4 linked regions of the Homo sapiens genome follow. The protein of the gene in region 3 interacts with the protein of the main gene of each other region in a pairwise test. Each region holds a gene or a part of one and is shown on either strand. Other genes may lie near its edges. The genes, in order: FAM124A, RBAK, PRKG1 and PPP1R12B.

Evidence for each region.
Region 1: the proteins of PRKG1 (region 3) and FAM124A interact in binary tests that used the Homo sapiens proteins (3 or more experiments, as listed by UniProt).
Region 2: the proteins of PRKG1 (region 3) and RBAK interact in binary tests that used the Homo sapiens proteins (3 or more experiments, as listed by UniProt).
Region 4: the proteins of PRKG1 (region 3) and PPP1R12B interact in a two-hybrid assay, tested with the Homo sapiens proteins (one study listed by BioGRID).

What each region holds. Positions count from the first base shown.
Region 1 is NC_000013.11:51,281,383-51,284,764, reverse strand, and holds the end of FAM124A (protein FAM124A), read right to left. Parts: 3' UTR 526-3,382; downstream 1-525.
Region 2 is NC_000007.14:5,048,841-5,055,880, reverse strand, and holds part of RBAK (RB-associated KRAB zinc finger protein), read right to left. Parts: intron 1-7,040. UniProt on the Homo sapiens protein: May repress E2F-dependent transcription. May promote AR-dependent transcription.
Region 3 is NC_000010.11:52,267,450-52,274,489, forward strand, and holds part of PRKG1 (cGMP-dependent protein kinase 1), read left to right. Parts: intron 1-3,900; coding exon 3,901-4,040; intron 4,041-4,942; coding exon 4,943-5,032; intron 5,033-7,040. UniProt on the Homo sapiens protein: Serine/threonine protein kinase that acts as a key mediator of the nitric oxide (NO)/cGMP signaling pathway. GMP binding activates PRKG1, which phosphorylates serines and threonines on many cellular proteins.
Region 4 is NC_000001.11:202,351,674-202,358,713, reverse strand, and holds part of PPP1R12B (protein phosphatase 1 regulatory subunit 12B), read right to left. Parts: intron 1-7,040. UniProt on the Homo sapiens protein: Regulates myosin phosphatase activity. Augments Ca(2+) sensitivity of the contractile apparatus.

The sequences.
Region 1 (3,382 bases), on a different chromosome or scaffold from region 3:
TTCACTCTGCTGTGACTGTTCCCCTGCCCTCAGACCCGGAGGCTCAAGGAGCAGCCACTACTAAAACCCAATTTATTCAAGCACACATCAACCCTCCCATGTCACAAAAGTCTCTGCAGTGGCTCACCCACTGCTTCCACCAGTTCCTCTTATGCTCCTTTTAACCAGTTGAGGTGACCCAAGATGATTTCTGTAGGACTTGCCAGGTGAGTTGGGGACAGACAGAGAAAGATTTGCTCTTTAAAGCAGACACTAGGTGGTGTTTAGTGTAGGCCAAAGTGGGACCGTGAGCAGTAATTTGGGGTTGAGGGGATCTTACTTGGAAAAGAGGCAAATGAGGGATGGGATGTAACTCAACCAGAGCACTTACCAACACATCCCCTCCCTGGCAATGCTGGAGGAAGCGTAAGGCCAAGGAAACAAGAGACACGGTTCCATTAAGCGACAAAAAACCAGGGCTACAATCTAGACTTCTTACACTACAGAGCCTAATACATAGATATAATTTATGAGACAACCTCAATATTTTTCAATTGAACACATTTATTGAGCACCTACAATGTGCCAGCATCTTTTACAAGGATAATACTCCAAACGAGTCAGGATCCTCCAGAGAGTATTGGAAGCCCTTCTGGATGAGGAAGATGCTACTGGAATGGCCAGGAATGGAAGGGAAGGCTTTGGTAAATGTGTTCCTGTGATTCCCTCTCCGTGGAGGGACTGCCATTTCCATGTGGTCTACAGTGGGCATCCTCTCCCTGCTCACCTGATGCTATGGGAACATTTTGCATTTCTTGCTTTCAAATGTTGTCTATGATGTCCTTTAGGGTCACTCAGTTTGGTAGATTGGACTGTGATGAGGGCGGGTCCAGAGTTGTACTCTAAAGCAGTCCTAGGCGAGCATGTGAGCACACTGAAATAAGGACACTGATTAGGGAGAAAGAAGGAGCCAGCCCTCGGCCATTAGCCTTTTTTTTTTTTTTTTTTTTTTTTTTTTGCCTCACTGACTTTTGTTACTGATGAACTTGCTTCCCTGTTCATTGGAGGTGGTATCATCACCTCTGAATTATTTTTCTCCTTCTTCCTAATGTTTGCAGGTTGCTTTTCCTCATCAGCTATTGACTGAATCACATTTCTGGGCAGAAGGTGGAGTGCTGGTGGCTTTCCAGGAATCAGCTCTGCAGAAAGAAGCTCCTTCCTGTTCTGAGCCCTGTGGTTCTGAAGTCATTGGTCTAACCTGAGTAGCCCACTTTTTTGGCATGACACACCACAGCAGCATTAGGCGGGAGACTTAGAATTTTTGTTGTTGACTGGAGCTGGGATGTTGAATCAACCTCAGGCAGCAGCCTAGCTCAAGGGATAATAAACTATGACCCTTGGGCCAAATCTGGCCCACCAGCTGTTCTTGTAAATAAAGTTTTATTGGCTGGGAATGGTGGCTCATGCCTGTAATCCCAGTGCTTTGGGAGGCCAAGGTGGGTGGATCACGAAGTCAGGAGTTTGAGACCAACCTGGCCAACATGGTGAAACTCTGTCTCTACTAAAAATACAAAAAATTAGCCAGGCATTGTGGTGCGCACCTGTAGTCGCAGCTACTTGGGAGGCTGAGGCAGGAGAATGGCTTGAACCCAGGAGGCAGAGCTTGCAGTGAGCTGAGATTGCGCCATTGCACTCCAGCCTGGGCAACAGAGCAAGACCCCGTCTCAAATAAAAAAAAAATAAAGCTTTATTGGAACTCAGCCATTCCCATTCATTAACATATTACTCATGGCTGCTTTCATACTACAGTGGCAGAGTTGAGTAGCTGCAAGAGACCATATGACTGGCAAAGCCTAAAATACTTATTATCTAGCCCTTTTCAGAAAGTTTGCTTACTCCTTATCCTGAATTAGGAGACTATATTTTTAAAAATTTAAATTAGAGCAGAATATTACATTACAATTCTGAGTGTTAGAGAGTCCAGAATGCTTGGGGCAAGGCCTAAGGCTGTCATTACAAGGATGGCAAAGACTTGAAGCTTCAGCTGAAGACTGATGGTTGGTAACTGCTGCCTGGAGGGTCGTGTTGGAAAGGACTCTGAGGCTGTGTCTGGGCTGGCGTGGGCATTTCCAGAGAGATGAACACTGTGCCATGATTAATTCAAGGAGCACCAGCCTGGGAATTGAGCTTGGCAAACCCATGCTGTTCTTCCTCAAAGGTAAATAGTATCCAGGGACAGCTTGGCACTGCCCCCGATGCCAGCCTTTGGCATTGCTGAGGTTGGGGCTGTAAACAAACATACTCTTACTGAGGTGAGAGGGAGGTGAGATTCAAATACCATTCACGGTGTGACAGTAGCAGATAACAGGCAGGAAAAGCCAAGGTTGCTGGGCTCCAGCGTTAATTAAAGCTCCCATGCAATCATGTGAGGCTGGCAGTGCACTGGTGTTTGTTCAGGAGAGCGTTTCAGGTAAAGTTTCCCGTTTTGGGGAGAACAGCATTATTAATCTGTGTGATCAAAATGCTGGCTAAAATGTTCCAAATCATTTAAAAATGAGAAACATAGGATGCGTGACCCAGCATGGTCACTGCAGAAAGCAGTATACAGTGCGGCTCTTGTCATTTGAATATAGTCCTTAGACTGTGGTTTTTGAAAGTTGAAGGATCTTAAGACTACCTACCCATGATGTCTAATGGCCTATAATTCTGTAATCCCAACAAATGCTCTTCCTCAGTGATCCAAATAAATTCAGGTAGTGGAGTGGTCTTCAGAAGCCCCTCATCCATTCCAGTGAAATGTGCTGTTGAAAAGGTGTATGCAAATCTACTTTCTGGAACTCACATATTTTAAATGCACCAAGAGTCTGTTACTCATGCTAAATCTTTATGAAACACATTAGCAACTTTTGTATAAATCCAGATTTGCAGGTGTTGCATGGCTTCAAGATGAGGAATTACCTGTAGTCTGATATACGTTTACTTCTCAAGCTGACTTTTTCCATTATAAGCAGTGCTTAAACATCCCTAGGGCCACTGTTCTCTGGTAATGTAAATATATATGGAGAATCCAGTAAGGTGTGCGTTACGTTATTATGCAGTAATCCCTCATACAAGTCACTTACTATCTCTCCCACATTCAACGTTTTGGCCTTAATTGATTTGCCTTCATACCATGGAAAAATTGCCAAATTGGTTCTGGCTGACTAGGTTTTCTTTTCATTTCAAATAATTATATAAGCCATTTAAATTGTATAAACCCACTAAACCATACCTCAAATGCTGAATATTCAAAAAATATATTTTATGACAAGTTTGTTGAGAATTTATTTGCATAAAAATGCCAGTATTTTTCTGCTGTGTCTCTAGAGATATACCACCCCCCAGCTAAGAGTGGGTGGTAGGC
Region 2 (7,040 bases), on a different chromosome or scaffold from region 3:
GGCAGGGCCGCTAGGCTGTGGGCTGAGAAACTAAAGCAGAACATCCAAGCTTATCCACAGTCAGGCCACAGGAGCTGATAAAATCACCGAGAGAGAGTAATAACCTTCTGGGTTAAGTTAGTCCAGAAGGCAAGGAGGTAGTAGGGGTTAGAAGACTGATCAACCAATAAATAACATAAAATTACATGCCAATACCACTTACATCAATACAAAAACCCAAAATGAAACATAATCAAACAAAATCCAGTACCAGATTAAAAACATAATATACAATAGCCAAATGGGACTTATTCCAATAATATAGACTAGTTTAATATTTGGAAATCTATTAATATGATAAGCCACTATAACACAGCAAAGAAGAAAAATCTTGTATCCGTGAAGATACCTGAAAAAGCTTGACAGAAAAAGCTGATTTAAAAAAACAAACTAAAGAAAATAGAAACTGATGGATACTTCATTAACATCAATAACATGTATATACACAAATATAAATATTGCACCCTAATATGCAATAGTATGTATGATATATATGTGACATATGTATTTCAATTACACACAAGCACATATATATACAGTTTGTGTGTATATACACGCACGCACACACACACACACACACACACACACACACACATTTATGCCTCAGTCTTCTCGGTCCAAAAGTCAGGATTTTACTTAACAGGGAAAAACTACATACCTTCCTACTAAGATCAAGAACAAGGTATTAATAAAATGCTCATTATCTACAATTAGAGAAGATAAAACAATTAGAGGAATATAACTAAGAAAAAGTAAAAGTGCTCGGGCACGGTGGCTCACGCCTGTAATCTCAACACTTTGGGAGGCCGAGGCGGGCAGATCACCCGAGGTCAGGAGTTCAAGACCAGCCTGGTCAACATGGTGAAACCCCCATCTCTACTAAAAAACAAACAAACAAAAAAAATTAGTTGTATTATTAAGGTCAACTTACCCTACCTAGGGTAAGTCAGTTACCCTAAATTACTTTATAAATATGCAACCCCAGTAAAAATACCAAAAAGCTTTTTCCTGGAACTAGATAAGCTGACACTACAGTTCATATGAGGTGGAAGAAAATCAAAAACAGCTCAGGGAAAAACACCATTTGGACATGGACAAAACTGGATCCAGGCCAGGTGCAGTGGCTCATGCCTGTAATCCCAGCACTCAGGAAACTGAGGCAGAAGGACTGCTTGAGGCCAGGAGTTTGAGACCAGCCTTGGCAACATAGCAAGACCCTGTCTCTACAAAGAAAAAAATATATATATTAGAAAAAATATATATAGAGAGAGACATGAGGACTTCTGCCCTCAGTTGTGATAAACTAACAGGTACTGGATATACCCTCCAACCTGAAATGGCACATAACAAAGAACAGCAGCAACAACAAAATCAAAAACAGAAAGAAAAATAAAACGGAGAACATATATGAAGCAATGGTTTTTTTTTTTTTTTTTGAGGCAAAGTCTCACTCTTGTCTTCTAGGCTGGAGTGCAATGGCACAATCTTGGCTCACTGCAACCTCCGTCTCCCGGGTTCCAGCGATTCTCCTGCCTCAGTCTCCCAAGTAGCTGGGATTACAGGCGTGTACCAGCATGCCTGGCTAATTTTTGTATTTTTAGTATAGAAGGGGTTTCACTATGTTGGCCAGGCTGGTCTCAAACTCCTGACCTTGTGATCTGCCCTCCTTGGCCTCCCAAAGTGCTGTGATTACAGGTATGAGCCACCACGCCCGGGCTGAAGCAATGGTTTTCAAGGCACTGATTATCAGGCAGTAGAGTTATCTATGAGTGATGGGAAATAAACAAGGTGAACCAATCAACTTCTGCCTTGAGTGTTTCCAGGCCACAGAGCAGGGAAGAAGAACAGAGACAGATGTGAGGTGTAAGAGTTGCGAGATGGGAAAATGGGCAGGAAATTACAACCATAAGGAAGAAAAGAATCAGTCCATCAAAACTGGCCCAGAATTGACAGAGTTTACAACCCACACAGAGCACTGAGAGAGTTCATCATTCTATTCCACATGTTCAAAAAAATTGAGACAGGCAAGATGTAAAAAAGACCCACGCTAACCTTCTACAGATAGAAACTACAATATCTGAGATGAAAATTATACTGGACAAGATTAACAGCATCGTGGAAAAAAGAGATTAGTGAATATAAAGACAGCAACAGAAGTTACATAAAATGAAACAGAGAAAAAAGAATTAAAAGCAAATAAAGAGCAACAGTGTGTTGTGGGAAAATTTCAAGTGGCCTAATATACAGGCAACAAGAATCAATGGAGGGGAGGTGGTGGGTATGTGAAGAAATAATGATAAAAATGTTCCCAAAGTGATGACACCATAAACCCAAGATCCAAGAAGTTCAGTGATCCCCAAAACAGAAACATGAAAAAAATGATACCATGACATATTGCAATCAAATTACCCAAAACTAGTGATAAAAAGTTTACAACATAAGGGGGGAAAGAAAAAAAGACATGTTATATACAGGGGAACAAAGATGAATATGAGATCAGATTTCTCTTAGAAAAAAATGTAAGCAGGAAGACAATAGAGAAACATATTTAAAGCACTGTGGAGAAATATCCAGCAGAAACACCTTTAAAAGCTAAGACACAATGAAGACATTTGCAGACGTACAAGAATTCATCAACTAGAAGAAATGTTAAAGAAAGTCCTTGAGGCAGAAGTAAAATGACAGCAAATAAAAATTTAGATTTACACAAAGGAATGAAGAGTACCAGAAATGGTAACTGTGTATTTTCTCTCATTACTTAAATCTTTTTAAAAGATAACTGGGCTGGGTGTGGTGGCTTACACCTGTAATCCCAGCACTTTGGGAGGCTGAGGCAGACAGGTCACCTGAGGTCAGGAGTTTGAGACCAGCCTGGCCAACATGGTGAAACCTCATCTCTACTAAAAATACCAAAATTAGCCGGGTGTGGTGGTGGGTGTCTGTAATCCCAGCTACCCGGGAGGCTGAGGCAGGAGAATCACTTGAACCTGGGAGGCAGAGGTTGCAGTGAGCCAAGATCGCACCCCTGCACTCCAGCCTGGGGGACAGAGTGAGACTCCAACTCAAAATCAATCAATCAATCAATCAATCAATCAATCAAAGATAACTGTTTAATTAACAACAACGTAATAGATTCTGTGTGGCACTGATACCACCTGTAAAAATAAAATGAACAACGGTGTAAAGACCAAGAGGAGAGAAATGAAAGTATCCTATTGTAAGCTTCTCTTACTCTAAGAAAAATGGTATATCACTTAAGAATAAACTATGATAATTAAAGTTGCATACTATAAATTCTAACTCACTAAAATAACAAAACAGTGTGATAGCTAAAAACTCAACAAAAGATATAAAGTAGAATCATAAAAAATTATCAATTAATCAAGAGGAAGGAAGACAAACAAAGACATTTTAAAAAGAAACAAAGAAGATGAGACTAAAAGAAAGCAAAGGCAATGGACTATAACCTAACTAGTTTTATCAATAATTACATTACATGTAAACAGTCTATACATCCCCAATTATGAGGCAGAAATAGACTGATGAAAACAAGCAAGATCCAAATCTTGCTGCCTACAAGAAATAATACTTTAGATATAAAGATGCAAATACGTTATAAGTAAAAGGATGGAATAAGATATACCATGCATGCATTACTCAAAAGAATGCTACATAAATAACAAAGTACATTTCAGCCTGGAATACTAGCAGGGATAAGGAAGGCCATTTTACAAAGTGGTTAATTAATCAACAGGATGTAATAACCTTGAACATTTATGTATCTAATATAATACATAAAGCAAAAAGTGGTAAAATTGCAAAGAGAAAGAGAACCACAAATGCAGCAGATTTCAATCCCCTCTCCCCAACAATTGATACAAGTAGGCACACAATCAACAAGGATATAATACACCTGAACAACACAACCAACCAACTTGATCTCATTAACATTTATCAAACACTCCACCCAACCAGAGCAGAACAAGCCATCTTCTCAAGCATGCACAGAAGTTTCCCAAGACAGATCCTATTCTGAGCCATAAATTTAAGAGGTCCCATGTAGTGTTCCAGACAAAAATTCACCAACTAAATCTAATCATGAAGAAAGATCAGGGAAACCTAAATTTAAAGACTTCTATAATATCATTGGCCTGTATTCTGCAAATATTATAATGGCACTGAGGAACAAATCCGTATTAAACAGCCTTAAAAAGCATGAAAACTAAAGGCAATTGACAGTCCTAGACTGAATCTTCTACCAAAAATTAAAAATTGCTATAAAGGAAATTATTGGGAAATTGGCAAAACTGGAAAATGAACTACAGTTTAGATAAAAGTATTAAATCAATGATAAATTTCCTGAATTCAATTACTGTGCTATGGGTATTTAATAGAAAGTTCTTGATTTTATGAGATATAATCTAAAACTTTATAAGGTAAAGAGGCATGACAAATCATACCCACTCTCAAACAGTTCAGAAAAAAAATATATAAAAATATGTACACACATATATGTATATATGCATATAAATGATTAATGTGGGAAAATGTTAAGAATGAAGTATCTGAACAAAAGGAAGTAGCTGGGATTTCTTTGTAAAATCCGTGCAATTTTTCTGAAAATTTGAAATGATTTCAAAATAAAATGCTGAACAGAAAATAATGCTATCAAATATATATTGTATGTATAGATTTGCTATCAAATATATCAAATATATTTCAAAAGGACTCAGAAACCAACTTAAAGGGATTTTGTCTGGCCAAAGATGGAGCCATTTAATTTTCAAAAAGAATCACAACTTTGATGTACTGAAATATTTACTATCTGTTTAAACCCACGAGCTCATAATGGTAACAAAACAAAAAAACCTTCCTGCTTAGAAGCCTACTCAACATTTTAGAAACTGTCTTTCCTGCATGAATTACATAACCAAATAGAGAACAGAAATTTATCTTTAGAAAAGTATTCTAGGCCAGCTGTGGTGACTCATGCCTGTAATGCCAACACTGGGAGGTCAAAGAAGAGGATCACTTGAGCCCAGGAGTTCAAGACCAGCCTGGGCAACATAGCAAAACCTGTCTCTACTAAAAATTAAAAAATTCGCTGGGCATTGTGGCACATGACTATACTCCCAGCTACTTGGGAGGCTGAAGTGGGAGGATCACTTGAGCACAGGAGTTTGAGGCTGCAGTGAGCCGTAAACACGACAGCCTGGGTGACAGAGTGAGACTCTGTTTCCAAAAAAAGAAAAGAAAAGAAAGGTATTTTGGCTAGTAAATAAAGAAGAAATGGTAGAATTAGCACATCACCATTTTGCCTCCCCTAATGAACTAGTAAATCACAGCAATAATCAACAGTCAATAGTTCTTAAGTTCACAAAAACAAAGAAGGTAACACATGCCTCCAGAAGTAGACAAATGCCACGTACGGTACAGCTGTGTGAAAAGAATTGAACATAAACCTGATTAGACTTCCAGATCAAACTACCAATTTAACAAGGCATAAAAGATATATTTTTTAAATGTGCTAAAGGTGAAACAAGGGTAACACAATCCAAACTGAGGATAACCAACCCAGTTTCTTCAAAACAATGAGCACGCAAGAGACATAATATAGGAACTATTAAAAGATTTAACCCAATTGCCACATGTATTAAGAGAGTATTATGGGTTATTCCTAGCCCCTTTCAAAAAGATTCCTTATTAGCCAGGTGTGGTGGCTTACACCTGTAATCCTAGCACTTTGGGAGGCCAAAGTGAAAGGATTGCTTGAGGTCAGGAGTTTGAGACCAGTCTGAGCAATACAGTGGGAATACATCTCTAGGCTGGGAGCAGTGGCTCACGCCTGTAATCCTAGCATTTTGGGAGGCCGAGGCGGGCAGACTGCCTGAGCTCAGGAGTTCAAGACCAGCCTGGGTGACATGGTGAAACCCAGTCTCTACTAAAATATAAAAAAATTAGTCGGGTGTGGCAGCTTGCGCCTGTAGCTATGCAGGAGGCTGAGGCAGGAGGATCGTGTGAGCCCAGGAGACTGAGGTTGCAGTGAGTTGTGATCACGTCTCTACACTCCAGCCTGGGTGACACAGCAAGACCCTATCTCAAAAAAAGAAAAAAAGAAACAGAACAAAACAAAACAAAACAGACTTCATCATTTAAAGACAAGCAGAAATACTTACAGACGAATCTTTTTAAAAGCCAAGAAAAGAGAGACTCCATGGAGAAAGTATCAGTTTGGAAGTAACAGATGTCAAAGGCAGACAAAGGGTCCTGGGAGGTAGGGGCTAGGAAATCCCCTCTGGATTTGACTGCAATGAAATCACTGGTAATCTTTACAGACTGACTCAGCAACGTGAAAAGGACAAAACTAAAACACTGAGAACTGAAATGAGAAACAGAAATGAGGAAATCTTCACAAGAGAGTAACTGTATTGTTTGCTGTGCAACCCAAACTGAAAGACGAACAAATATTTGAAGGATGATCATGTCATTCATTCCCCCCATGATCTAGGACTCAACAGTAAAAACAGAATTCTGTCTACTGGGATCACAATGTTTCCTTCCCTGGAAAAATTATATGCACCAAGTTCTCCTTGGGCAGCAGGCAGGCCCTCTGCTTACATAAGCACCAAGAATAAGCCATAAGTTATGGTAACTTAATGGTTGTTATTAGGAAAGCTATCCGCAATTATATCAACTTGAATGAAGAAATTTTTCCAAGTCCTAGAAAATCTTTTAAATCCACAAGTAACAAAGTTGGTTTCTCCTTATAATGAATGCAAATGATGTCATGGATGGTGATATGGTTTCGCTTTGTGTCGCCAACCAAATCTCATGTTCAATTGTAATCCCCAATGTTGGAGGTGGGGCCTGGTGGGAGGTGATTGGATCATGGGGGCAATTTCCCTTTTGGTGCTGTTCTCCTGACACTCAGTGACTTATCACAAGACGTGGTTGTTTAAAAGTGTGTAGCGCCTCCCCCTCCCTCTTCCTCCTGCTCTGGT
Region 3 (7,040 bases):
TTCATGATGAGAGTTTTACTTTTACTCATTGTAAAAGCAAGGTATGAGGATTGTTCAAAAGTTAAGCAATTCAAAAAGTAAAAAGAAGTAAAAATCAACTAAAAATCTCCCTAAGGAAAAATCATTGTTAACGTATTGATGAACACATTTCTGATTGTCTCTTCATACATTTATTTCACATATAGATGTGTGTGTATATATATACATATGAATGTATATATACACACTAACATACGAACACACTGTGAGATCATAAAATGCATGCTGACTTGTAATCAGTATCTTTTATTCATATATATGTCTTGGTTATTTTTCCGTAATGTTAAATATAATTCTAAGTCATCATTTTTACAGTTGCATTGCATGGATATACCATAATTTATTTTTCAAGCTCCTCCTCTTGCTAGAAATTTAGATTGTTTCTAAATTTTTCCATTAGAAACAATGTTGAATTGAACATTCTTGAATGATCTTTGGGAAGTTGTTGGTTTATCAGAAGATTTCTGATGAATATGTTACTTGGGCTTTATGGAAATAATTAACTTCAACATTCTCCACTGTCTCTGTTGAGTTAGCTCACACCAGTGGTCCTCAGGTACCCTGACTTTCTGGTTAAGATCCTGAGTTCTGTGAGTCTTGTAGCATTCTGGTTTAAATTGGAAGTGGAGATTCTAAGGGCCCTGCTCTAAGGAGCTCATGAGATCTTGTATAGAGTCCAAAGAAGGAAGATGATTCTAGACCCAAGGACTGGTTCCATGCAAAGTAAAGGCAAAGCAGAAAGCCTCAGTAGGTTAGCAGTATAGTTCTATAAACTTTTTGTAATTAATGCTTTTTAAATTGGCAACTAGTAAGCCTGACTCCCAAGAATTTCTGTTGCTTTCTGTAGCTTTTACCTATCTCTTATGACATCTGCCACCCACCAGTTCTCATTATCCTCTTTCTACCCCACTTGGCTTCTCCTTGCAGTATTCAAGCAATCGGGTATCTCAAACCCCTAACACATGGAGGTCCCTGGGAAGTGCCTAGGAAAATGTCAGTGAGGCTTTGGCTGTTCTCCCAAATCACATGCCTAGCATAAGTTAAGCTTAAAGGTAATAGAAATATTGTTCAGTTTATCTCACAGTCCATGAGTTAGTCGATTCCGTTAAACTCTGATTTGCAAAGTATCAATCACTATGCATTTAATTGGTTTTGTATTCAGCTGAAGGGAAGCAGCATATACTGGAAATAGCTTGGGCCAAAAAAAAACCTGAACATGAATCCATTTCTGCCACTTGATAGCTCTGTGACCTTGGGAAAGATAGGAATCATTTTTGGAAATCAGTTTGTTCCTCTGAAAAAGCAACATTTGATTTGCCCTATTCAGTAGAGATTGCTGGGTACAAGCAGAGTCCATCAATGAATGCCCATTTGGTGGTGCGTTTTCATTTAGGATCATAATAACTGTGGTATCTGGTATTATCCTCAGCTAGAACTAGGGCTCAGAGCAGTTAAGCAACTAGCCCGAGAGAGACTAGTTGCTTAGACTGAGAGGGACTAAGTGGAGTCAGAATTCAAGTCCAGACCTGTGACTATAAAGGCTGAATTCTTTCCTCCTACCCTGTGTACAAGTATAAAAAAAAAAAAATCTGTGTATCTGTGTTATCATCACTAAAGAGAATCATTTTTATAGTAGGCATTTTTGAACAACTGCACAACAGTCCTCACTAGTTTAACTGGGAATGACTCTGAAGAGGGAATATGACTTTACTTCTTCTTCTCTGAATTGTAGTACTCTAACATAGCTCATTTTTCATGCCATCTTCCCTAGCTTTCCAGATTTCTTTTAGAAGTGAGTTTTCACATTTGGTGTTTTATTTTGAGTTACTACTGAATTTATTTGTAGCACACTAATCTGTCATCTTTGAGTTTCACAGCCAGAGTACAGGGTCTTTGGCTGTTAAAAGCATTTTCAAATACCCATTTTTCCCTCTACCTGTCATACTGATTCACAATTGCTGGCAGCTAACCGAGGCCCATTTATTTGCAGTATCTTCATGCTCCCTCCTAAGGAACTTGCCACATGAATATCTTCGAAGATTGAACTCAATCTGTACATGTGTGCAGGAACAAGACACTTAAGACCTTCGCTATCCCTGCTGATGAAGCAGTAAATAATTAACGACTAAAGAGGGGACAGCCATACTTCAGCTGAAAAGCAGAAACAGCATGCCATGTTATTTCCCCAAGGTTACATTACTCCCAAATAATATGGGCTGTTTGGTATCATCTTGAGGATTCTGCTGCTTGAGAGCACTAGATGATAATGTCCTTACATTGCTTTTAAGTAATTAGCTCTATTACCTCTCTTGTTTTTGTTACAAGTCACCTTCTTGAAATTTCTTGTAAAACCATAAACAGCACCCTGTCTGAGTAAGGCATGTGGAAGATCCATGCCTCCTCTGGAGCCACTGGGAGCCATGAGGGCTGCAAGAGAGGCATGGCACATTGAAAGATATTAAGCCTCCAAGTCTTCCCAGTTATTAGAGAGTAAAGTTTGAGGTCAAAGGAACTAAAGCCATCATGCTTGTTTGAGAAGAAAAACAAACGGTTTTCAAAATCTCCTGAAAAAATCTTGTTACAATTTTTTTTCTCTTTAAACTGTAGGGAGGGAAAATTCTGCAAGGTTAAAAAGAAGAAATGAATACAGTCAGTACTGAAGAAATAACAGTCTGCAGTCTCAGCAGAGACTAGGGTCCACCACTCAAGCTAAAAATTAGAAATGTTAACAACAGGTGCTGGAGAGGATGTGGAGAAATAGGAACACTTTTACACTGTTGGTGGGACTGTAAACTAGTTCAACCATTGTGGAAGACAGTGTGGCGATTCCTCACAGATCTAGAACTAGAAATACCATTTGACCCAGCCATCCCATTACTGGGTATATACCTAAAGGATTATAAATCATGCTGCTATAAAGACACATGCACACGTATGTTTATTGCGGCACTATTCACAATAGCAAAGACTTGGAACCAACCCAAGTGTCCAACAATGATAGACTGGATTAAGAAAATGTGGCACATATACACCATGGAATACTATGCAGCCATAAAAAATGATGAGTTCATGTCCTTTGCAGGGACATGGATGAAGCTGGAAACCATCATTCTCAGCAAACTATCGCAAGGACCAAAAACCAAACACCGCATGTTCTCACTCATAGGTGGGAATTGAACAATGAGAACACATGGACACAGGAAGGGGAACATCACACACTGGGGACTGTTGTGGGGTGGGGGGAGGGGGAAGGGAAAGCATTAGGAGATATACCTAATACTAAATGACAAGTTAATGGGTGCAGCACACCAACATGGCACATGTATACATATGTAACAAACCTGCGCGTTGTACACACGTACCCTAGAACTTAAAGTATAATAATAATAAAATTTTAAAAAAAAGATAAAAAAAATTAGAAATGTTTGTGGATTAGAACTAAGGAGGAAGAATATAAAGGCCCATATAACCCTATTTTTGGCCATCTTTACTGAAATAAAATTGGAAAAGAAGTTTTTTTTCTACTCTTTTGACAGAAGAACTATAAAATGTATTCAAACACACTCTATGACATGAAATAATAAAACTAGAACTAAGTACATTTTCCCTCTTCTAATCCACACGTGAACACAATTAATTTGGAATCAAGTTAGTTAAAATTCAGCCAATTCAGAGCATGAGATTGGATGATAGCTGTGAGCCCTGGATGTTAAACGCAGCTCTACCAAGGATTTACTGTGTTTTGACTTGGGAGGTGGCTGAGGTTCATTTAAGTGCGCCATGTACCTGTTAATTTGGGGATAATAATGCACTCTTACAAGTCTATGGGCTTTTTCTTACTCTCTTCTCTCTTTCTTTAAGGTCCAGTTGAAAAGTGAAGAATCCAAAACGTTTGCAATGAAGATTCTCAAGAAACGTCACATTGTGGACACAAGACAGCAGGAGCACATCCGCTCAGAGAAGCAGATCATGCAGGGGGCTCATTCCGATTTCATAGTGAGGTAAAGGCTCCATGCCAGGGACAGACGTACCCAACTCCAAGTGACAAATCCACCACAAAACCCTCTGCCACTTGTGCTCACTGTTAACACATTTCGTATGCACAAAGAAACTTCTTTTTAATCTAATCTTAAGAAAGTTTTGTTTGATTTCTAAAAATAAAGTTCTGACTCTATTCTTTCTTTTAAAGAGAATTAGTGTCTGAAAACAATGTGTTTTCCCAAAGGAGGTACCAGAGTTTCTAACATTCCATTTTTATCTTTTTTTAAATCCCCAAACTCTACATAGACCTTTGATGCTTAAAAGACAAAATATCCAAAATCAAACTATTTAACCTTTAATTATCTGAATATTTTTTGAAGATCTAAAAAAATGAAATGACAGCTGACCATTCCACCTCAGTACTAATAAATGGATAATGGGGAGATTTTTATATGTGGAAGCAGCTTTTTGTAGTGAATTTTCCAGTGGCATTTACTGAAAACAAGATGTAACATGAATTTGAGCGAATAGCATATGAAATTTATACATGTCTGAATCTGTAAAGTTTAATCCACTTTATTCCCATTTTCACTGCATGTTGATGACCACTAAATGTTGCCCCAAGGGTCTATGCTCAAAACATTACCCAAATTGGAATGGAAAGAATCCCAAGAAACCCTCTTTGTCCATAATCATTATGATTAATCCATTTCAAGGGAGAGATTAGCGCCTTAGTTTCTTCTATTAAAATCCTATTCATGAGCCATTGGCTTCTTTTCCCCATGTGTGGGCTTAGATCTCTCTCATTCTGACAAAATTTTGAGCTTGGCAAATCAAAACTATAATCTGGGCCCCCCAAAATTGCACACTTGTAAAAGACAGTAATGTTTATAATCTTTGTTTTCTTGTTTGCAATTTACAGACTGTACAGAACATTTAAGGACAGCAAATATTTGTATATGTTGATGGAAGCTTGTCTAGGTGGAGAGCTCTGGACCATTCTCAGGGATAGGTAGGAGATTTAAGAAATTTCTATGATATCTCTAAAAACAGTTGCCCATGTTGGTCTATAAGAAGAGTTAATATGATAAAGTATAATAATCATATTTATAATTTACACATGCTTATATTTCAATATTTAAAGTAAGCACAGGGCATAACCCACTATACACATATGATTTACTGTACATATAACAAAACTCACTTTGTAACTAACAATACAGGCTTAGTCGATCATAAAAATGGTACATAGCAAAATATATACATGGCCTTAGTTTTGCATGAATGTTAGAATTAGCTCTGTAGCTGGAATTCAATTCATTGCTTTAGCAGAAAGAGAATTATAGTTATTTTATAATTATAATTTGAATTAACTATCAGTTTAATTGCTCTACTCTTTTTCCAGATAGGCAGTTTGCCTTTTGTGACATTGTGAATTTTTTCCAAAGTAATTTTTCCCTCTACCTTTACATGGCTCTTTGGTTTCAAAATTAACAAAAGTTTCCAGCCATCTCTTTATCCCTTGGCTAGTCTTAGGAAAAAGAAAAGAATCCACTTATAAGCAATATTTCATGTAAATTATCTGATTTAGATTTACCTTCTTACCCTTCCAGGGCAAGGAAAGTTTGTCTACATGGTGCTTGTTTGTTCTAATCATGCAAATTCATTGTCTTAATTTTCCATCTCATATTTAGATAACTAGCAAATTATCTAATTATCTTCTAATATAATTTATCCTATAAAATGTCTCAGGAGATCATTATCTACCCTGTGTTTTTTTAAAAACACACTTTTATTTTCCTATGAATAATCTTTTGATTATTTTCCATGAATGATTTATTGATCATACAAAAGTCATCTTTGTTCTTTTGAACACTCACATTTAGACATCTGTATTTTTCTTATTTGTTTGAGTCCTGCCTCCCAGACTCTCCTTCACAGGGTAGCATCCTTCTGAAACTTAGCTATAGGTAGCCCTGATGTATATAACCATGTAATGTTTTTATATTTGTTACTTTGCAGATACCCCAGAATAAAACAAGTGGTTCCTTATGAACTGTTGATTTAAATTCTCATTCCTAATGGTGTTCTTATGGTACCTTCATATCTTTGTACAACAGGCCCTTTCGTGTTATTCCCATGGCCTTTCTTATATATGCCAAATGGATTTCTTGTTACCACATTGTATCCTATTGCATCGGTATTTTATTTCAATTCTTAAATTTAAGGTTAAAAAAGCATAAAAGGGAATGTAATCATGTTGGCATTAGGCGATAAGGTTAACATCTATACTAAGCTATTATATCATAGTGTATATATTATGTATTATTGCTAGTTAATATGTACATAGAGATTATATACCAGGCATTGTGATAGAGGCTGGGGATCCAGTAATAAACAAAACAGATGGGGTCTCTCTCCTCAGAATGTATAGTTTGTGGCACAAAGTTAATATTTTAATCTGTGAGTTAACATTTGGCATATCTAATGTGTTTCTACTGTATTATATTTGACTTGATATTTCAATTCACTGATTTATTTGAAGTCTTCTACTTTTTTTTCTAATTAGAATAGAAGAAGATTTACAGGTGGAATTAAACATGAAAGCAATAATAAGCCACAAAGGGAGAGCCCAGCTATCCCTCTTATAGCTTATTATTTTTTTATTTTTTCATAAGTTATTGGGGTACAGGTCATATTTGGTTACGAGTAAGTTCTTTAGTGGTGATTTGTGAGATTTTGGTGTACCCATCACGCAAGCAGTATGTACTGCACCATATTTGTAGTCTTCTATCCCTCACCCCCCTCCGACTCTTCCCCCCAAATCCCCAAAGCCCATTGCATCATTCGTATGCCTTTGTATCCTCATAGCTTAGCTCCCACATATCAGTGAGAACATGTGATGTTTGGTTTTCCATTCTTGAATTACTTCATTTAGAATAATAGTCTCCAATTTCATCCAGTTCCCTGCAAATGCTGTTAATTCATTCCTTTTTATGGCTGTGTAGTATTCCATCATA
Region 4 (7,040 bases), on a different chromosome or scaffold from region 3:
AAACTCAAGTTTCAGTTTTTTTTTTTTTTTTTGAGACGGAGTCTCGCTCTGTCACCCAGGCTGGAGTGCAGTGGTGCCACCTTGGCTCACTGCAACCTCCACCTCCCGGGTTCAAGTGATTCTCCTGCCTCAGTCTCCCGAGTAGCTGGGACAACAGGCGCGTGCGACCACGCCCGGCTAATTTTTTGTATATTTAGTAGAGACAGGGTTTCACCGTGTTAGCCAGGATGGTCTCAATCTCCTGACCTCGTGATCTGCCTGCCTTGGCCTCCCAAAGTGCTGGGATTACAGGCGTGAGCCACCGCGCCTGGGCAAAGCTTCAGTTTTTCAATTGAATTGCCTCATGAAACAAACATAAACTCTGCATGCCTGATAAAACTTTAAGCCCCCAAATTTTACTCAAACTGGTTACAATCTAAGATCAGAAGAAACAATTTTTTTAAATGACACTTCAAAAGCAGGAAAAACCCCAACATATTCACAGACAAAAACAACATCAACAAATTGGGCAAGCACTCAATTAGCAATCCAAATGAGGCTTCAATTCCTTGTCCTATATGACATTCTGGGCCAAGGTCTTAATCTGGATTTATTATTACTATGTTGAACCATTAAAGATTTATTAGACATCCCAAACCTCCATATTTCACCATCTTAGAGAAGATATATATGTAATTCTCCTCCATAAGCATAAAATAGTCTCAAATACTGATAAATATAGTACTCCCCTGACACTCCTCAAGAGCCAGAATGCTAGAACAGAAATCGGTTATGTAGCCAATTTCCTATTATAAGTTATAATAGTAACCAACTATTCTGGAGACCAATCCCAAAATTCAAGTTAGTTTCTAAATTGTATCTACTGCTAAGTAAAAGTAACAAGCAGCACAGAATCAGATACACAGTAGACACTCAAGAAATAAATGTAAGAGAATGGCAGAAAAAACTGTTTATTGGTACTAACCTCCCTATCACTGTTCCCCCAAGGCTGCCTTCCAGTGGAAGTGCTAATGAGTGGGAAATGGGCCAAACTAGACTGAGAAGTAAAATAAACTAGATAAGCAGCCATCAGTAATAGGGACATAACTTTCTTGCCCCTATTATCAGGTTTAATATCCTAAAATATTCTTAACTGATGAATAATGAAACCACCTGAACTAGCCAGAATTCAGCTTTTAAAGTGTCTTGCCACATATTTTGGGCCCTCATTTAAATTACAATTATATTGATGGAAAATCTATATTTTTTCTCCCAAAAGTCAACAGAAAGACAAGTTATCCTTAATGCAAAAAAAAACTTCATATAACCTCCACAAAAGTCTTCAAAAATATCTCTACTGAAAGTGCTCTTTCAAAGTTTAAATGACCAAATCCAACAGTCTTTTTACAGGCCTTCTCCTCAATTTCCTTTTACATTATTTACCATCCATTCCTTGAAATACCTCAATATCACTGTTTGTCGGTTCTTCTCTGTATTAGTTTCCTATTGCTGCTATAACAAATTACCATAAACTTAGTTGCTTAAAACAACACAAATTTATTATCATAGCATTCTGGAGGTCAGAAGTCTGAATCATGGCCAGATGCAGTGGCTCACAACTGTAATCCCCAGTGGCTCACACCTGTAATCCTTGGGAGGCCAAGGCGGGTGGATCACCTGAAGTCAGGAGTTTGAGACCAGCCTGGCCAACAAGGCAAAACCACGTCTCTACTAAAAATACAAAAATTAGCTGGTTGTGGTGGTGGGCGCCTGTAATCCCAGCTAATAAGGAGGCTGAGGCAGGAGAATCGCTTGATCCCGGGCAGCGGAGGTTGTAGTGAGCCAAGATTGTGCCACTGCACTCCAGCCTAGGGGTCAAGAGCAAAATTCAGTCTCAAAAAAAAAAAAAAAAAGTCTGAAATCAGTCTCATTGGGCTGAGTTGTCAAATTGCTGGCAGGGCTGGTTCCTTATGTGGAGGCTCTGAGAGAAGAATCCACTTCCTTGCCTTTTTCAGCTTCTAGGGTCCACCTGCATTCCTTGGCTCACAGAACCTTCCTGGAATCCCTGCAATCTCTTGCTTCCTTCATCACATCTCCTATTCTGATTCTGCTCTCTTGCCTGTCTTATATGGATGCTTGTGATTATATTGGGCTCACCTGGATAATCCAGGCTAATCTCCTTATCTCAAGATCCTTAAATTAATCATATCCCCAAAGTCTCTTTTACCCTGTAAGGTAACATATTTACATGTTCTGGGGATTAGGACTTAGACATTTTTGGGGCACCATTAGTCAGCCTACCACATCTTCCAACAGCTCTAACTTGAATTTCTGCATTCTCTGCCTACCAGCTGCTTGTGTTTTCTGCTCTTCTCTGTATGTTTTCTCCCTTTCCTCTTTCACACTCATTACTTCAACTCTCACCTTTATGCTAAAATCAAGTCTCTTGTCTCAAATATGAGAAAACTGGAGCATAGATAGGAAAGTGACTAGCCTTGAGTCACATAGATACCTACAGGATATTTACTTACTTACTTACTTATTTATTTGAGACACAGTCTTGCTCTGCTCTGTCACCCAGGCTGGAGTGCAGTGGTGTGAACACAGCTCACTGCAGCTTCAACCTCCTGGGCTCAAGTGATCCTTCCACCTCAGCCTCCTATGTAACTGGGACCACATGTTTGCACCACCATACCTGGCTAATTTTTTTTTGGGTGGGGAGGGGGTTGGAGAGATAGGGTCTCACCACATTGCTCAGGCTGGTCTCAAACTCCTGGTCTCCAGCAATCCTCCCGCCTTGGCCTCCCAAAGTGCTGGGATTACAGATATGGGCCACCATGCTAAACACCTATAGGAGATTTCTATTTGTACGTCTTCAGAGTACCTCAGTCTAATCGTTGACTGAATACTATTTCTACCTGAATAACACAATTCTTTCAGACTCACAAGCTAGAATTGTACTACACTTTTTTCTCATCTCCATTCACTCAGCTGGTTCTCTCAACTCTGTCTCTCCATTCATTCAGAAATCCAAGTGCTGCTTCAGAATCCTAAAATACTGCTTTGGTTGGGTAACGACCCTGCTCAAACCCACAAAAATTCTCTACTAAGGAGTCCATCAAGCCACCTTGGCCTGATGTTTGATGTTCAAAGCCCTCTAGGATGTCACCCTGACTCTCTCTCATCTCTAACCCTTCAAACACATCCATTAGGATTTCCTAGCATCCTCTGCCTACACACCACACCCATTCCTATTTATTCGCCCATGCTGCTCTACCATCCTGGACTGCCTTCGTTTGTCCTTCCACTTAGGAATACATCCTTTCCAGGGTATCATAGAATTTGGAACTCTAAAAGGAATCTTTTTTTTATTTATCTGTTTCCAAACCTGACTGTTAGTTCCTTGAGGGCAGAAATTATACCACATATATACTCTAGTACAGACTTACAATCTACCATTTAGACATTCAATATTAGTTGTTAATTAAGAATCTAAGAAAACCTCTAAAGAGAAAAATATAGTGGAACACGGCCAGGCATGGTGGCTCACGCCTATAATCCCAGCACTTTGGGAGGCTGAGGCGGGTGGATTACCTGAGGTCAAGAGTTCAAGACCAGCCTGGCCAACATGGTGAAACCCCGTCTCTACTAAAAATACAAAAATTAGCTAGGATGGTCTCGATCTCCTGACCTCGTGATCCACCCGCCCAAAACCCCGTCTCTACTAAAAATACAAAAAAAATTAGCTGCGCATGGTGGCAGGCACCTGCGGTCCCAGCTACTCGGGAGGCTGAGGCAGGAGAATGGCGTGAACCCGGGAGGCAGAGCTTGCAGTGAGCTGAGATCACACCACTGCACTCCAGCCTGGGCGACGGAGCAAGACTCCGTCTCAAAAAAAAAAACAACAACAAAAAAAACAATTAGCCAGGCGTGGTGTCACCCCCCTGTAATCCCAGCTACTCAGGAGGCTACGGCAGGAGAATTGCTTGAGCCCGGGACGCAGAGGTTGCAGTGAGTCGAGATCGTGCACTGCACTCCAGCCTGGCTGACAGAGCGAGACTCTGTCTCAAAAAAAAAAAAGAATGGGACACATGTAATTAATGGCATATTATTCAAATATCAAAAACTTTACTCTAGGCCAGGCATGGTGGCTCTTGTTTGTTTATAGACACAGGGTGTCACTCTGTCATCCAGGCTGGAATGCAGTGGCACGATCATGGCTCACTGCAACTCCAGTTCCTGGACTCAAGCTATCCTCCCGCCTCAGCCTCCCAAGTAGCTGCAACTACAGACATGCACCAACATGCCTGGCTAATTTTATTTTTTTGTAAAGACAAGGTTTTGCTATGTTGCCCACGCTGGTCTCAAACTCCTGAGCTCAAGTGATCCTCCTGCCTCAGCCTCCATCTATTGTGATTATTGGGACAAAATAACTGATGAATGACTGTCATGGGCTGAGGGTGGGAGGAGCTGTCTACCAAGGAGCACAAAAAATCTTGAGGGTAACGTTCTACATCTTGATTACAGTGGTGGTTCCACAACTGTACGCATTTGTCAAAACTCATACGATGCTACACTACAAAGAGTGAATTTTATTGTATATAAAGTATATCTTAGTTTTAAAATATTTTAAAAGAAAAAAATAAACTACTTAGTTTTATGTTAACAACAAGACTGGTCCAACTCCTTACCTTTGGCAGAATTGTGCTTAATCCATATATATTGACAGGTTGCCTATTTCAAAATACTCACAGAGTAGAAGATTCTAAAAGCCCAAATGGTGATATACAGTTATTCAGCAGGAGTTGAAGAATTGGGGAGAGGCCAGGCATAGTGGCTCCTACTTGTAATCCGAGCACTTTGGGAGGCCGAGGGGGGAGGATTGTTTTAGCCCAGGAGTTCAAGATCAGCCCTGGCAACATAGTGAGACCCCCTTGTCTACAAAAAATTTTAAAAATTAGCTGGGTATGATGGGGTGTGCCTGTAGTCCCAGTTACTAAGGAGGCTGAGGTGGGGAGGATCACTTGAGCCTGAGAGGTTGCAGCTGCAGTGATCCATGGTCACACCACCACACTCCAGTCTGGGTAACAGGGCAAGACCCTGTCACACACACACACACACACACACACACACACACACACACACACAAAGAAGAAGAATAGGGAAGAAATTCTGCGGAACAAATGAAAGTCATTTTTATTTATACTTTCAAAAAAAAAAACCACACAGACAAAAAGCTGAATTTCCCAATATGGCTTTGAGGTCCAACATAGTCTGATGCAACATATTAAGCAATTTGAAGAGGTAAGCTACTAAAATGGCTCAGGATAGATGACTATTCTAGATGCACAATAATAAAGGAGCAAACAGGATTTTTCTGAATCCTATGTTGCCATGGGTCCTGACACTAAGCAGAATTCATCAATATTCAGGGTAAGGCAAAAGTAACTTCGCAGGTGGAACCAGGAGAGGAATGAGTAATAAATGTAGAATAAAAGAGAAAAGGTTAAAAGCACAAGTTTTATTTTACCATATGAGTTAGCACACAAAATATACTATTTTATATTGAACTGAACACACATTCATCTTACTCATCTTCTGTCTCTGTCTGAATATAAATTGCTCAGCCTATCCTCCTCCCCTCACTTGTTCCTATCTCCATCTCTCTTCCTGAGAAATACGTGATTTTAGCCTCCCTAAGTCTACAGCGTCAGACTGAGGCAACTCTAGAATGACAAAGGCTTATTCAACTACAAACTGAATTCCAGTCTGGTGTGACCTTGAGGGTCCAAATTTGGACCCTGCACATTACAAAGACAGTCTGAATTTCTTTTTTCTTTTTTTTTTGAAACGGAGTCTCACTCTTTTACCCAGGCTGGAGTGCAGTGGTGTGATCTCAGCTCACTGTAACCTCCACCTCCTGGGTTCAAGCGATTCTCCTGCCTCAGCCTCCCCGAGTAACTGGGACTACAGGTGTGCACCACCACACCAGGCTAATTTTTGTATTTTTAGTAGAGACGGGATTTTGCAATGTTGACCAGGCTGGTCTCGAACTCCTGACCTCGTGATCCACCTGCCTCAGCCTCCCAAAGTGGTGGGATTACAAGCGTGAGCCACCACCCCCGGCCGCCAGTGTGAATTTCTGAGTCAAGTATGGAATTATTCTAATCTCCTTGGTAGCCCTCCAGATGAAGACTGATCAGACCGTGCTAAGAGACAAGACCTATGGTGACTGAAATCCAGCATCCCTCACCACACTCAGCACAGATTTAAGAGTCAACATAATACATGCTGAAGTAAGTAAGCATTCATTTTAATAAATCCTAGAAAAATCTCTTTTCTGAAAGTAGGCACTTGCCTCTTCCCACAGCAATAATTTGGTAGATATCATGTATCTAGGCCTAGAGTACCTAAGATTATAATGCTAAGGATATCAAGATAGGTGCTAACAGTCAAACTTAATAAATAAATAAAAGAAAAAATTTAAAGTACTATTCCACATAGAATTATTAACAAATATTCCTGGCCTTACAATGTGTATACGCAAATGAAACAGAAATTCCTTTGTGAGCAAACAAGTGCTTTCAAGGGTTCTATAATCAGATTAATACCTTGTTAAGGACTCTAGGACAACACATGCATACACACCAAATCTTAATTTAGTCACTGAAATTTAGTCTGCATCAGTTTCCAAGGCTTTCATCAGAGTTGGTCTAACCTTTGAGATACTTCTTATCCCAGTCTAACTCAAGTATTATTAATAGGCCCCCTGGAGCTTGTTATCTTTGACTCAAGCACCTCGTGGTCTCAGCAAAGGCTGCCAAGAAAGAAGGTCTCTAAGTCCAAAAGAAGCATCAAGGCACCACAAGCTGCAGTGCAAATCATCTACTGTGACGTTGTAGGAGGAGAAAAATTGTCCCCCAGTATTATCTGGGGGCTTCTAACATGCCAAGACAATAATCCACAGTTGGTCAAGTGGCCATGGCCAAAAGAGAGAAAAGAAGCAATTATCCAGATAATTTATATCGTGCTTGTATAACAAATGGACATTTTAAATAAAT